Homo sapiens: one gene and its partner. The protein of the gene in region 1 interacts with the protein of each later gene in a biochemical or structural test. Each region holds a gene or a part of one and is shown on either strand. Other genes may lie near its edges.

Region 1 (7,614 bases):
ACTAATAAATGTCCATAAAATCTTCACAATCCATGTTCTTCTGCCATGGCTTTAGCCGGTCCCTCCGTTTGGGGTCCCTGACTTTGGCTGGCTGAGCCCATTTTCCCAAGGAGGACATTGATGTCCCGGGCAGGACATCGTCCGTGGCCTTGGCAGGATCCTCGGAGCTGTTTTGGGCCTTTTTGTTGTGCCCAGGATGAGGCAACCTCGGGGGAGCCTGCACAGGTGTGTCCGGGCTCGGGAGCACCTCTTTGGCACCCACTGGCAGCTTGCTGCGCGGGAGGTAGCGGATGCAGGTTGGAAACAGCCCCTAGGAAATGAGAAGGTGTTTCCTGGAGGCCTGCGCCACTCAGCTTCCTGGCAGAGGAAGGAGCGTTTCCCTCATCCTGGCCCGGGTCCCGGGTCCATCTGCTCCAGGAAGGCTCTGGTGGCTCGTGATGAGCTGCCCTGTGAGAGGGAACAGGGTAGAGGCAAGGCCTTGGGGGATGGCCTCTGCCTGGATTTCATGGGGAAGGATGCAGGGCCAGGGCTGACATTTTGTCAAATCCAAGCAACTTTGCAAAAAAGTCCTCCTCTCACGCTCCGCCCTCTGGAATCGAATGCTTCACTGTCCTTCCCTGGCAGAGGGCCTGGTCCTGTGAGGGTTACATGGCCAGGCGGTTATCTCCGTGCTGGGTGCCTGATGAGAGCTCAGTTGAATGTTAGCCGTTGCTGTTTCCAGGCTAAACTATTGTCTTTTTGCATGATTTCTTCTGCACAGAGTGTTGGTAGCTTTCATCAGATCTTTGTAGGGTCTGTGACCCCCAAACCGTTCAGGACACTGGCCTAGACTCTAGGTGTCTGTGAGGCCAGAAGCCCCTGGATGCATCTCTTCCTGTCAGGGCCTGCGTCCCTGGGGCTCCTCTCTGCTGAGCTCTGGGGTTTCACGCTTGCCCTGCCAGCGCCGACGTCCCTGCCCGGGGTCTGAGCTGTCTCTCCTCTCCATCCTCCAACAGACCGCAGAGGCCGAGACTCCGTCAGAGCTGTGAGGGAGGCCCGGGCCAGATGCCAGCTTGCCAAGGAGGCCGATTAAAAGCAGCCTTGCTGGGGGCGGATGGCTCAGTGCCCTTGGCCTGGTGTAGAGTTCGATAAGCAATTGTTTTCCTGTTGGTGAGAAAAAAACAAATCTCCATTGACTTTCCCAGGCACTGCTCAGCCTCATTTTCTTCTCAGGAACTCTTGCAGCCCTATCAGAGGCAGCTCTAGGATAGGGGAGAGACTGACTGCCTGCCCTGGGGGACGCAGGCCACACAGCCAGGGCTGAGGGACACACTTAAGAGCAGGCCAGCTCGCTTGGACATTGGTCCTCGTGGGAACATTCCAGAGCATAGGCTACCTACCAGAGCAGGCCATGGGCATCTGTATTAGTCCGTTTTCACGCTGCTGATAAAGACATACCCGAGACTGGGCAATTTACAACAGAAAGGTTTAACTGGACTTATAGTTCCACTTGGCTGGGGAAGCCCCATAATCATGGCGGAAGTCAAGGAGGAGCAAGTCCGGTCTTACATGGACGGCAGCAGGCAGCGAGAATGAGGAAGATGCAAAAGCGGAACCCCCTGATAAAACCATCAGATCTCGTGAGGCTTACCACCATGAGAACAGTATGGGGGAACCCGCCCCCGTGATTCAATTATCTCCCACTGGGTCCCTCCCACAACACACGGGAATTATGGGAGTACAATTCAAGGTGAGATTTGGGAGAGGACACAGAGTCAAACCATAGCATCCAACAGGTGTTTGTTGAAGTAATAGTTTTTGAGTACTTAACCACTTGCAGGGCATGATTCTGAGTGCTTGGTTCATCTAATCCTATGACTATCAGATGGGCACCAACTTTACAGGATGTCAATGACCTTAAGCTGTTGAACTTCAGGGTATCTTGAGTTTCCTCTTCTGGGACATAAGGACCATGAGAAGGAGAAGTAAAGTAGCAGCAGCTAGGGCCATAGAGAAATATCAAACTTGAGTTGTATTCTCTCATTGATGGGGAAACTGAGACAGGGACAGAGTTGATGATTTCTTTCTGAGATACAGTAAGGGGGAATGGGGGACAGAGAAATAGGAGATAAGACCAACTGCTCCCCTCTCCTGACCTCCTGCCCCGTCTGATCCCGTAGCATCCTAGGCCTTATCATCATAACTCCGATCATGGTTACAGGTATTTTCTTTCCTTTAAAACACTTTTTATTTATTTATTTATTTTAGATGGAGTCTTGCTCTGTTACCCAGGCTGGAGTGCAGTGGCGCAATCTCGCCTCACTGCAACCTGTGCCTCCCGGGTTCAAGTGATTCTCCTGCTTCAGCCTCCTGAGTAGCTGGGATGACAGGTGCCCAACACCACGCCTGGCTAATTTTTGTATTTTTAGTAGAGATGGGGTTTCACCATATTGGCCGGGCTTATCTGGAACTCCTAACCTCAAGTGATCTGCCTGCCTTGGCCTCCCAAGGTGTTGGGATTACAGGTGCGAACCACTGCATCTGGCCTGAATTTGACTATTCTAGATACTTCATGTAACTGAAATCTTACAACACTTGTCCTTTAGTATCTGGCTTGCTTCACTTAGCGTATGTCTTCACGGTTCGTCTGTGTTGTAGTGTGAGTCAGAGTTTCCTTCTTTTTTGTGGCTGTATAGTATTCTGTTGTATGGCTCTGCCACATTTTGTTTATTCATTCGTCTGTTGATGGACACTTGGTTATACCTTTTGGCTATTGTGAATGATGTTGCTATGAACATTAGTGTACAAGTATCCGTTTGAATCCCTACCTTCAATTCTTTTGGGTCTATACCTAGGAGAGGAATTGCTGGTTATATGGCAACTCTACGTTTAACTTTTTGGGGAGCCACCAGGCTGCCTGATTGTAGTTTGAATTTGCAGTTCTCTTACTGTGAGGTTGAACATCTTGCCGCATGATTGGACTCTTTGGCGTTCTCTTACCACACACTCTGTGTGCATGAGTCAGGCCCGTGTCAGGGCTGGGGCGTTGGGTTTTCCCTTTTGCCTTTCCTGTTGGGCTTTCCCTGCCACGTGCCTGGCGTAGTAGCTATTTCATCAGTTCTTCTGGAAGGACCGTTCCGAGAGCGCTGAGGGCCATTTTCTGCCTCTCAGCCAGATCCTCCAGGGAGCTCTGGCTTTCCGCTGTCTGTACCTTCCTCTCTTTTACCCCACTACCTCCCAATGTCATCGGAGATACCATTTTATTCATTCATAAAATCTCTGCTGAGCCCTCACTGTTTTCCTGGGACATCTAGAGAGACCCCCCCCCCACCCCGCCCTTTTTTTTTGAGATGGAGTCTCCCTCTGTTGGCAGGCTGGTGTGCAGTGGTGCAACCTCAGCTCACTGCAACCTCCGCCTCCCAGGTTCAAGCAATTCTCCTGCCTCAGCCTCTCCAGTAGCTAGGATTATAGGCATGAGCCACTACACCTGGCTTATTGTTGTATTTTTAGTAGAGACGGGGTTTCACCATGTTGGCCAGGATGGTCCAGAGAGACCCTTTGTGATGTGGGTGATTAGCATGGAGTGGCCATCATCCACAGGTGTCTGTCCACAAATGTACTCCCTGAATTCCAGTGGTACCTGTGACATTTGTCCAGCAGAATTTGTCAAACACGTTAAGCAAAGGTTAATGTTCTGTCCCAGAGACGGTAAGAATTGACAGCCTAAGGGGATGTGTTAATCTTTTTTATTTTTATTTTTTGAGATGAGTCTTGTTCAGTCACCCAGGCTGCAGTGCAGTGGTGCGATCTCGGCTCAGTCATTGCAACCTTCACCTCCCGGATTCAAGTGATTCTCCTGCCTCAGCCTCCCGAGTAGCTGGGATTACAGGTGCCCACCACCATGCCCAGGTAATTTTTGTATTTTTAGTAGAGATGGGGTTTCACCAGGTTGGCCAGGCTGGTCTTGAACTCCTGACCTCAGGTGATCCACCTGCCTTGGCCTCCCAAAGTGCTGGGAGGATTACAGGTATGAACCACTGTGTCCGACTTCTCTCTCTTTTTTTTTTTTTTTGAGATGGAGTCTCACTCTGTCATCCAGGCTGAAGTGCAGTGGCGTGATCTCGGCTCATTGCAACCTCCGCCTCCCGGGTTCAAGTGATTCTCCTGCCTCAGCCTCCTGAGTAGCTGGGACTACAGGTGTACATCACCACACTTGGCTAATTTTTGTATTTTTAGTAGAGATGGGGTTTCACCATGTTGGTCAGGCTGGCCTTGAACTCCTGACCTCATGATCCACCCGCCCTGTCCTCCCAAAGTGCTGAGATTACAGGCGTGAGCTGCCGTGCCTGGCCTTTTTTAAAAAATTGAGATATAAGTTCATGTAACATAAGTTGGCCATTTTGAAGTGTATAGTTCAGTGGCATTTAGTACGTTCACAATGCTGTGCAACCATTACCTCTATCTAGTTTCAAAACGTTTTGATCACCCCAAAAGGAAAACCTGTGCCCATTAAGCAGCCATTCCCCACACCCACTAATGTCACCACCCCCATAGTCCTAGGCAACCATTAGTCTACTTTCTGTCTCTGTGGAGTTGCATATTTTAAAAATTTCATATAAATAGAATCATATATATGTGACCTTTTGTGACTGGCTTCCTTCAGTTAGCATAATATTTTAGAGGTTCATCCATATTGTGGCATATACTTGATTCCCCCCGACCTTTTTTTTTTTTTTTTTTTTGAGACAGTCTTGGTCTATTGCTGAGTTGCTGAGGCTGGAGTGCAGTGGCATGATCTCGGCTCACTGCAACCTCCGCCTCCTGGATTCCAGCGATTCTCCTGCCTCAGCCTCCTGAGTAGCTGGGATTACAGGCACACGCCACCATGCCCGGCTAATTTTTGTATTTTTAGTAGAGATGAGGTTTCACCATGTTGGCCAGGCTGATCTGGAATTCCTGGCTTCAAGTAATCTGCCTGCCTTGGCCTCCCAAAATGCTAGGATTACAGGTGTGAGCCACCGTGTCCAGCCCTGACCTGCATTGTTAATGCCCAGCATTTAAAAATAAAAAGTCAGGCAAACTTATTAACCTCCTTAGGGCTTCTCTTGGGAAAAACAAAGGGAAGACCAGCAATAGTAGGCCCAGATTCCTGCCGAGCAACAATTGGCTTGAGCTGGAAGCAGCTGTCAATTCTGTAGGGGATATGTGTGCTCTATTTGGGGGTTTTCTTATACTTGTTCCTATAGGAATTGAGTTAGGAATTATTGTCATGGTATGTGAGAAGTGGTTCCAGCTACTTGGGAGGCTGAGATGGGAGGATCACTTGAGCCTAGGAGTTCAAGGGTACAGTGAGCTATGATCGCACCACTGTACTCCAGCCTGGGCAACAGAGAGAGGGAGAGACCTTGTCTCAAAAAAAAAAAAAAGAAAAAAAAAGAAAAAATAATAAAAGAAAAAATATAAGAAGATGCAGACTCTGCTTTTCTGTATAGACTCAGAGATCAGATCACACCATGTTTTGCAAGATTTTTTTAGGATGTCAACTGGAGGCAGGAATTAGACAGCAGCCTGGGCCAGGAGGAGAGGGGATCCTTTCCTGTCCCTGCCCGTAGGAGCTGGGCCAGCTGACCCTTTCTCTTTCTGCAGGTGGCTCCGCTGCCGGATGGGAGTGCCCCAGTGTGCTGGATGAAGCTGGCGCATGCACCATGTCATCATGTGTCTCTAGCCAGCCCAGCAGCAACCGGGCCGCCCCCCAGGATGAGCTGGGGGGCAGGGGCAGCAGCAGCAGCGAAAGCCAGAAGCCCTGTGAGGCCCTGCGGGGCCTCTCATCCTTGAGCATCCACCTGGGCATGGAGTCCTTCATTGTGGTCACCGAGTGTGAGCCGGGCTGTGCTGTGGACCTCGGCTTGGCGCGGGACCGGCCCCTGGAGGCCGATGGCCAAGAGGTCCCCCTTGACACCTCCGGGTCCCAGGCCCGGCCCCACCTCTCCGGTCGCAAGCTGTCTCTGCAAGAGCGGTCCCAGGGTGGGCTGGCAGCCGGTGGCAGCCTGGACATGAACGGACGCTGCATCTGCCCGTCCCTGCCCTACTCACCCGTCAGCTCCCCGCAGTCCTCGCCTCGGCTGCCCCGGCGGCCGACAGTGGAGTCTCACCACGTCTCCATCACGGGTATGCAGGTGCGTGAGCCGGTGGTGAGCCAGGTCCTAGGGGTCCCTGGTGCCCTTCCCTGCCCCCAGCAGGGCCTCTGTGGAAGGTTGGGCTCCCCCAGAAGGATCTGAGTGCCACGGTTGACCTAGGAGTTGACTCCAGGGAACCTTGGGGGCGGCTGGGGCCAAAAAGGGGCCCTAGGGGGGTCGTGAATCAGCATGGGGAAGGGAAGGCAGTCAGCAAAGGGTGGGTCATGGAGCCGATTACCAGTGTGGAGTGTGGGCCGCTGGGGCTTTTTCCTTCCGTGGGACCCTGGGGAACAGCACAGAGCAGCAGCCTCAGTCATCCCACCAGGGGCAAGGGAGCTGGGGTATTTATACTCATGGGTGAGGGCTGCTGGGGCAGGTGTGTGTGACCCCCTGTGGGTGTGGACAGAGCAGTTGCAGGGCCGGAGGGAGCCTCCAGCAAAGAGACTGAGGTGTGGGCGAAGGTGTGATGGAATGAGGCGGGTCACTGAGAGCCTGGCGACGACCCGCCTGGCCGAGCGTGTGTTGGCACCAGGCACTGGGTTCAGCACTTGCTGTGCATTTCTCACAGGACCCTTACCGTAAACCCTGCGGGGATACAGAGAACTCAGATCCTCACCAGGGTTCACAGGGCCCTGTGTGGTCTGACCCTTTCCCATCCCTCCTGCCATTCTGCTGCCAGCTCCCTAAGCTCCCTCTGTTCCTGCCTTCACATTCCTCGGAATCCAAGCTCTTGCCTTGGGTCTGTACTCTCGCTGTTCCTTCTGCTTGGAACCACCTCCCCCACCACCCCATGCCAACTTTGTAAGGCCTATTCCGATAATGTCCAAGTCTCAACTCCAGTATCACCTCCTCCAAAAGGCTTCCCGGGCCACCATCCCTAAAGCACCCTCCAGCCTCTCTCTGCCCCATGGCCCTATTTGCTTTCCTTCATAACGTTAATCAGCATCTGATTATCTGTGCGTTGGTTTAGTTGTTTATTGCCTGTCTCCACCCAGCCAGAACGTAAGCTCCATAGGATCATTTCATCCACCTCCACACCCTATCCCATCCCCAGAGCCTAGCACAGTACCTGGTGCATAGTAGGAGCGCAAAAATATTTGTTGAAGGAACGAATGAATTTAATTGGAAGAAGACCCAACATCAGGATGCCTTTCTAAAGGGGCTTTTTTTTGTTGTTGTTGTTGAGACAGAGGGTTGCTGTGTTGCCCAGGCTGGAGTGCAGTTGCGTGATTTTGGCTCACTGCAACCTCCACCTCCCAGGTTCAAGCTATTCTCCTCCCTCAGCTCATGAGTAGCTGGGACTACAGGTGTGCACCACCATGCCCAGTTAATTTTTTTTTTTTTTTTTTTTTTTAAGTAGAGATGGGGTAATGCCATGTTGGCCAGGCTGGTCTCGAACTCCTGACCTCAGGTGATCCACCTGCCTCAGCCTCCCAAAGTGCTGGGATTACAGGCATGA
Region 2 (7,614 bases), on another chromosome or scaffold:
TTAAAGTGGAGCTCAGATATGCTCACAGCGGCATTCAAGGATGATCATTATGGCATGGTTTACAAGGGCAAAAGCAGAAAACCACCTTCATGCCCACCCCCAGGAGAAGGTTACATACAGCATGGCACATTCCAACACTGGACTAGCAGCTGTACTTAACAAGGATGAAGCAAATCTAAATCTACATGTGCTGTTAAAAGATAACATAAGATATTAACATTAAGTTAAAAAAAGCAAGCTGCAGAACAATACATTTAGTAGATCTCATTTTAGTTAAAATAAAAAGGATAATGAGTATGTGATAGATAAAATTCTACAGGTACACAAGAAACTTTTTTTTTTTTTTTTTTTTGATAGGGTCTTGCTTTGTCCTCCAGGCTGGAGTTCAGTGGCGAGATCACAGCTCACCATAGCTTTGACCTCCCAGGCTTAAAGCGATCATCCCACCTCAGCCTCCTGAGCAGCTGCAACTACCAGTGTGCATCACCATGCCTGGCTAATGTTTTTTGTATTTTTAGTAGAGATGGAGTTTAACCATGTTGCCCAGGCTGGTCTCGAACTCGGGGCTCAAGCGATCCACCCGCCTCAGCCTCCCAAAGTACTGGGATTACAGGCGGAAGCCACTGTGCCCAGTCTACAAGAAACTTGTGGTGGCACATGCCTGTAATCCCAGCTACTCGGGAGGCTGAGACAGGAGAGTCCCTTGAACCCGGGAGGCGGAGGTTGCAGTGAGCTGAGATCACACCACTGCATTCCAGCCTGGGCAACAGAGCGAGAGACTCCATCTCAAAAAAAAAAAAAAAACCACACACAGGCATATGGGCCAGGCGCGGTGGCTAACACCTGTAATCCCAGCACTCTGGGAGGCTGAGGCAGGCAGATCACAAGGTCAAGAGTTCGAGACTGGGCGCGGTGGCTCATGCCTGTAATCCCAGCACTTTCAGAGGCTGAGGCGGGTGGATCACAAGGTCAGAAGTTCAAGACCAGCATGACCAACATGGAGAAACCCCATCTCTACTAAAAAATACAAAAATTAGCCAGGCGTGGTGGAGCACACCTGTGATCCCAGCTACTCAGGAGGCTGAGGCAGAAGAATCACTTGAACCCGGGAGGCGGAAGTTGCAGTGAGCAGAGAACGCACCATGGCACTCCAGCCTGGGCAACAGAGCGAGACTCTGTCTCAAAAAAAAAAAAAAAAAAAAAAAAAAAAAGAGTTTGAGACCAGCCTGACCAACATGGTGAAACTCCATCTCTACTAAAAATACAAAAATTAGCTGGGTGTGATGGCATGCGCCTGTAATCCCAGCTACTCAGGAGGCTGAGAGAGAAGAATCGCTTGAACCCGGGAGGCAGGGATTGCAGTAAGCCAAGATCACGCCACTGCACTCCAGCCTGGGCGATGGAGCGAGACTCCATCTCAAAAAACAAACAAACAAACAAAAACAAGCATATACTTACCTCCATTCATCATTTTGTCTTTAGCAAGAGGGTGTGTTGTAACTTTACTTCCAAAACCTATTTCATGAGCCAACAGAGCAGTAGGACCTAAGAATAAAAATAAAAAGATCTAAGTGCAGATATAGAAAAGCCCATGTTTAAAAAATCGCAATAGTGCCTGGCACAGTGGCTCATGCCTGTAATCCCAGCAATTGGGGAGGCCTAGGTAGAAAAATTGCTTGAGCCCAGGAATTCAACATCAGCCTGGGCAACACAGACCCCTTCTCTAACAACAACAAAAACTGCAACAGCAAAGTATTCTTCAAAATCAAGAGGCTCTTACCAAACATACAGCTACGATTCTGAAATGAAACACTTCCTAGTATGAGAGATAAAGTATGTTTATAACAAACGATTTGCTGAGCACATCTGGCAAAAGCACAGAAACTCAAAATACTTCAATAACCATTTACTCAAGAAGATTTACCTTGATACCAGCAGAGCATACACAGATAAACAAAATGTGCTCACCTCTCTCACCTTCCCCATCCCCAGAACAGGGACCACATATACCAGGAGTCCAAAGGAGGGGGAGGATCACTGGGGCGGGCTCAACTTCTTACCTCACTCTTAGTAAAAGGAAAGATTTAGTTACATGCTAAAGGCAACTGGTACTCTCTGAACTTCTGGATTTTATTGCTCTTTTGTAATCTTATTTTCTACTTGAAAATGGGAAATTAGGCCGGGCACGGTGGCTCATGCCTGTATTCCCAGCACTTTGGGAGGCCAAGGCGGCTGGATCATGAGGTCAGGAGATCAAGACCATCCTGGCTAACACGCTGGAACCCTGTCTCTACTAAAAATACAAAAAATTAGCTGTGCGTGGTGGCGGGCGCCTGTAGTCCCAGCTACTCGGGAGGCTGAGGCAGGAGAATGGGGTGAACCCGGGAGGCAGAGCTTTCAGTGAGCCAAGATCGTGCCACTGCACTCCAGCCTGGGCGACAGAGCGAGACTCTGTCTCAAAATAAATAAAAAATAAATAAATAAAATGGGAAATTAACACTCGTTCATCCACCTATCCACCCAAGTATGCCAGGTGGTAGGATTAAAATGGACAGCACACTGTCCTTGAAGGAGATAGCCTGTGAAGTGCCTGGAAGTGTGAGATATAAAGGCACTAGCATCACGTGATGAAAGCTACTTAAGCAAAGAACCACATGGAAGTGTCAGTTGATGAAGTCTTTCCAAATTGGCAGGTCCTAACTTGAGATTTTTATTTAAATGTATTCACTGAAAACGGCCAACTTCAGGGAGGGTCACAAGCATATTGCGTATGTAATGGTCCTAAATAAGGATTAAAAACAAAGATTTTATATACCTTTCATTGTTATTTCATCTTAAAGCTTTTTACAAAGTATTCATTCTACCTTTTTCCTCTAAGCCACACATATAAACATTCTTTCTAAGGCCTCACATGACACTTAGAAGGATACGTTTCAGAACAGCACCTTGATCTTGGAAACACTTAAGGTGCCCTGGATGGCTAAGATCCTGTGGCACAGTTTGTACACTTTTAGTGTCAGCAAACCTGAGAGGTCTTGGTCTTACTGTCCTTTCATTTTTCAACAAGACTCCAAGGAAGGAATTATATAATATACCCACAAGCTACTCAGACCGTAGCTGTTACAAACAGGAAGATCACACAAATACTACCTAATTACATAAGCTTTCTGCCTAATATCAGCTGTCAGTTTCAGACCAAGTCCTGATTTATAGCTCTTAAATCAAAAGCCTCAAATGTCTCTTCTCCACGTTATTTTTACACACAAGACAGCTATGTATGGTAGCAAATTTTAGAAGTCCGTAAGAATTGAATAATTATCAATTTTTATTTGAATGGATTTATAAATTGTTTTTAATTTTTATTTGGTAAGAATTTAAGAAGAAATTCCTACATCATCTTGCATTTTAAAGTAAACTTTAATAGATGATAGCACAGTGAGGAAAGTGATCGGTGAACGAGAATTTTTAGGCTGCTCCCTTCAAGGTGGTAATAAAATCACTGCTACGATGTGAATAAATTTATGTTACAGTTGGATTCAGGAATTTACTGATGTCTTTCATACTTATCAGGTAAGCTCATAATCACTGCTTTCTGGGGCGTCAGAACCCTATTTGGAATACTGGAGAAGAGACGTTTCACTCTCCCAGGACCTGGGATTCTGATGGATGAAAACGCTCTGTACTCTGCACTACAGTGCAGAGGGCGCAGCTGACCATGTCCCCTTCTGCAGCCAACAGCACCACCCTGTGGTAACATGCAAAATGACCACCTCTGCCAACTCCCCAGCTCCTCCAGGTGGCCAAGACCTTGCTTCCAGAGGCCTCATTCCTAGACCTGGGCATCTCAGCTGACAACTGTCCACTCCTCCAACTCCACACTTCCTCCCCCTCCCCTACTCAAAGTAAATATCATTTAATTTTCTTCTCAACATAGACTCCCTTCCAATTTGCGTTCCTCATTCACTCAATATTAAGGACTAGGCTAATATTCTTTGTGTTCAAAATGTTTCCAATCCCTAACTGCAACACTTCAGAATAATCTTGGCTGGGTGCGGTGGCTCACGCCTGTAATCCTAGCACTTTGGGAGGCCAAGGTGGGCGGATCACGAGATCAGGAGTTCGAGACCAGCCTGGCTAACATGGTGAAACCCCGTCTCTACCAAAAATACAAAAATTAGCTGGGCATGGTGGCAGGTGCCTGTAATTCTAGCTACTCGGGAGCCTGAGGCAGGAGAATCGCTTGAACCTGGGAGGTGGAGGTTGCAGTGAGCCGAAATTGCACCACTGCACTCCAGCTTGGGCAACAAGAGCAAAGCTCCCATTTCAACAAAAAAAAAAAAAAAAAAGAATCTTATTTTTCTGTTTGCCAATTTAAAAGATCCAAATCTCTTCCATCACTCCTCTGTTCCATTCCCATAACCCTCATCTCAATTAGCTCAGCTCATCATCACATTTTTTCCTATTTCTGGTGTAGTGCCCACAACAGTGGTGCAGGATATTCAATGGTATAAACACACTGCTAGTGTGTTTTCTATTTTTACTGTTTTTTATATAATTTTTTTTTTTTTGAGATGGAGTCTCACTCTGTCGCCCAGGCTGGAGAGCAGTGGCGCAATCTCGGCTCACTGCAAGCTCTGCCCCCCAGGTTCACACCATTCTCCTGCCTCAGCCTCCCGAGTAGCTGGGACTACAGGCACCCGCCACCACGCCTGGCTAATTTTTTGTATTTTTAGGAGAGACAGGGTTTCACCGTGTTAGCCAGGATGGTCTCGATCTCCTGACCTTGTGATCCGCACGCCTCGGCCTCCCAAAGTGCTGGGATTACAGGTGTGAGCCACCGCCCTTGGCCTATTTTTACTTTTTTTTTTTAAGAGACCAAGTCTTGCTCTGTCCTTTAGGCTCAAGTGCAGTGGTGTGATCACCACATCTCAATGTAACCTCAAATTCCTGGGCTCAAAGTGATCCTCCCACCTCAGCCTCCTGAGTAGCTGGGACTACAAGTGTGCACCACCACACCAGGCTGATTTTTTAAAATATTTTTTTGTAGAGGTCGGTGGGGGGGTCTCACTATGTTGCCCAGGCTGGTCTTGAACTCCTGGGTTCAAGTGATCCTCCCACCTCAGTCTCCCAAAGTGCTAGGATTACAGCTATGAGCCACCACAGCCAGCCTGTTTATTTTTTAATGTTGATTTAAAGTACTATAAGGCCCATGCTTCTTAGCATGGCATTCCATCTAGCCTCAGCACAAAACAGTAAGCCAAATGTGGTTGATTTTTTTTTTTTTTTTTTGAAACGAAGTCTTGCTCTGTCGCTCAGGCTGGAGTGCAGTGGCACGATCTCGGCTCACTGCAATCTCCGCCTCCCGGGTTCAAGCGATTCTCCTGCCTCAGCCTCCCAAGTAGCTAGGACGACAGGCATGCGCCACCATGCCCTGCTAATTTTTGTTATTTTTATTTTTATTATTTTATTTTATTTATTTTTTGAGACGGAGTTTCACTCTTGTTGCCCAGGCTGGAGTGCAATGGCGCAATCTTGGCTCACTGCAACCTCCACTTCCCAGGTTCAAGCGATTCTCCTGCCTCAGCCTCCCAAGCAGCTGGGATTACAGGCACGCGCCACCACGCCTGGCTAATTTCTGTATTTTTAGTAGAGATGGGGTTTCACCATGGTGGCCAGGCTGGTTTCGAACTCCTGACCTTAAGTGATTTTGCTACTTTTGTGGCACAGGACAAACTGACATGTGGTTTTTACTTTCAGCAGAATCATAAGGAAACAAACTCAGCCCAAACTCTTTCTTCCTTTGGTCAAAGAATCTAGGACTGAGGCTTGCTTCACAGCAGCAGAGCCAAAGAAAACCAAACTCAAGGATCTGTGACTTTCTCTCCAAAGAGGGGAGCAGCTGCTTGGGCTGCAGTGACTGCAGTGCCCTTTGGCAGAGATAATTACCTGAGCCTCAGGGCAGGTCAAAAGGCTAGTGGTGACTCTTGTAGTAAGCCCACGTACAAGACCTGCCAGGGTGGTCAACCTCTGTGGTTCTTCCCAGCCCCTAATGCCACGGTTCTCAAACATTTAGGTCTTAGAATCCCTTTAGCTTTTATGTGGGTTATATCTATGAACATCTGCCATATTAAAAATTATTACTTTTTTTTGAGACAGTCTTGCTGTGTCACCCAGGCTGGAGTGCAGTGGCGTAATCGCGGCTCACTGCAACCTCCGCCGCCCGGGTTCAATAGATTCTCCTGCCTCAGCCTCCTGATAGCTGGGATTACAGGAATGCATCACCATACCCAGCTAACTGCCCAGCTAACTTTTGTATTTTTAGTAGAGACGGGGTTTCACCATGTTAGCCAGGCTGGTTTCGAACTCCTGACCTCAAGTGATCCTCCCACCTCAGCCTCCCGAGTAGCTGGGATTACAGGCGTGCACCACCATGCCCAGCTAACTTTTGTATTTTTAGTAGAAACGGGATTTCACCACGTTTGCCAGGCTGGTTTTGAACTCCTGACCTCAAACGATCTGCCCACCTCAGCTTCCCAAAGTGCTGAGATTACAGGCATGCGCCACTGTGCCACGCCAATTACTTTTAATGGCAAAAACCACAATTACTTTTACATCAACCTAATAAAACTGGGAAATTTTTAAAACACAATAATAAATTCTCAGATGATGGTATCATCCTACTCTGATGTCACTCCTGAAAGACTGAGAAGAAAAAAGGCGAATAACATTTTGTTTGAAAGACATGGTGTCACTCTGCTGCCCAGGCTGGAGTGCAATCATAGCTCACTGCAGCCTCTAACTCTTGCCTTCAAGCGATCCTCCCATCTCAGCCTCCTGAGTAGCTGGGACTACATGCATGCAGTACTGTGCTTGGCTAATTTTTTGTTTGTTTGTTTGTTGAGATGGGGGTCTGGCTATGTTGCCAAGGTTAGTCTCAAACTCCTGGCTTTCAAGAGATCCTTCTGCCTTGGCCTCCCAAAATGCTGAGATTACAGGCATGAGCCACCACACCTGGCCCCTCAGTAGCATCTGCTTTGACCTTGCAAGTGCACCAAAAGAACATTGAGAACCACTGATACTCGAATGTATCAAGTCCCCAGGACCTCTGGCCCATAACTTCTTTTGAAAAGCCTACTGTATTGAACAAAATAGCAACAGCAACATGTTTTGATGTTGATGTTTACCAAACCATCCACTCATTCATTCGTTTATTCATTCACTCTTCTGACAAATATTTATTTTATTTTATTTTATTTTTTTTTTGAGACGAAGTCTCGCTCGTGTCCCCCAGGCTGGAGTGCAACGGCACAATCTCGGCTCACTGCAACCTCCGCCTCCCGGGTTCAAGCGATTCTCCTGCCTCAGCCTCCCGAGTAGCTGGGATTACAGGCGCCCGCCACCACGCCTGGCTAATTTCTGTATTTTTAGTAGAGATGGGGTTTCACCATGGTGGCCAGGCTGGTCTTGAACTCCTGACCTCAGGTGATCTGCCCGCCTCAGCCTCCCAAAGTGCTGGGATTACAGGCGTGAGCCACTGCGCCCGGCCCTGACAAATATTTAATGAAGACCTATACAACAAGGAAGGTGCTGGCAAAAATTACAGCATGGGAAAAA

Evidence for each region. Proteins that work in one complex are often made in the same cells at the same time.
Region 2: the proteins of CAMKK2 (region 1) and PARK7 form a complex in vitro, tested with the Homo sapiens proteins (one study listed by BioGRID).

The regions. Positions count from the first base shown.
Region 1 is NC_000012.12:121,272,597-121,280,210, reverse strand, and holds part of CAMKK2 (calcium/calmodulin-dependent protein kinase kinase 2), read left to right. Parts: intron 1-5,625; 5' UTR 5,626-5,684; coding exon 5,685-6,155; intron 6,156-7,614. UniProt on the Homo sapiens protein: Calcium/calmodulin-dependent protein kinase belonging to a proposed calcium-triggered signaling cascade involved in a number of cellular processes. Isoform 1, isoform 2 and isoform 3 phosphorylate CAMK1 and CAMK4. Isoform 3 phosphorylates CAMK1D.
Region 2 is NC_000001.11:7,971,583-7,979,196, reverse strand, and holds part of PARK7 (Parkinson disease protein 7), read right to left. Parts: intron 1,546-7,614; coding exon 1,459-1,545; intron 1-1,458. UniProt on the Homo sapiens protein: Multifunctional protein with controversial molecular function which plays an important role in cell protection against oxidative stress and cell death acting as oxidative stress sensor and redox-sensitive chaperone and protease.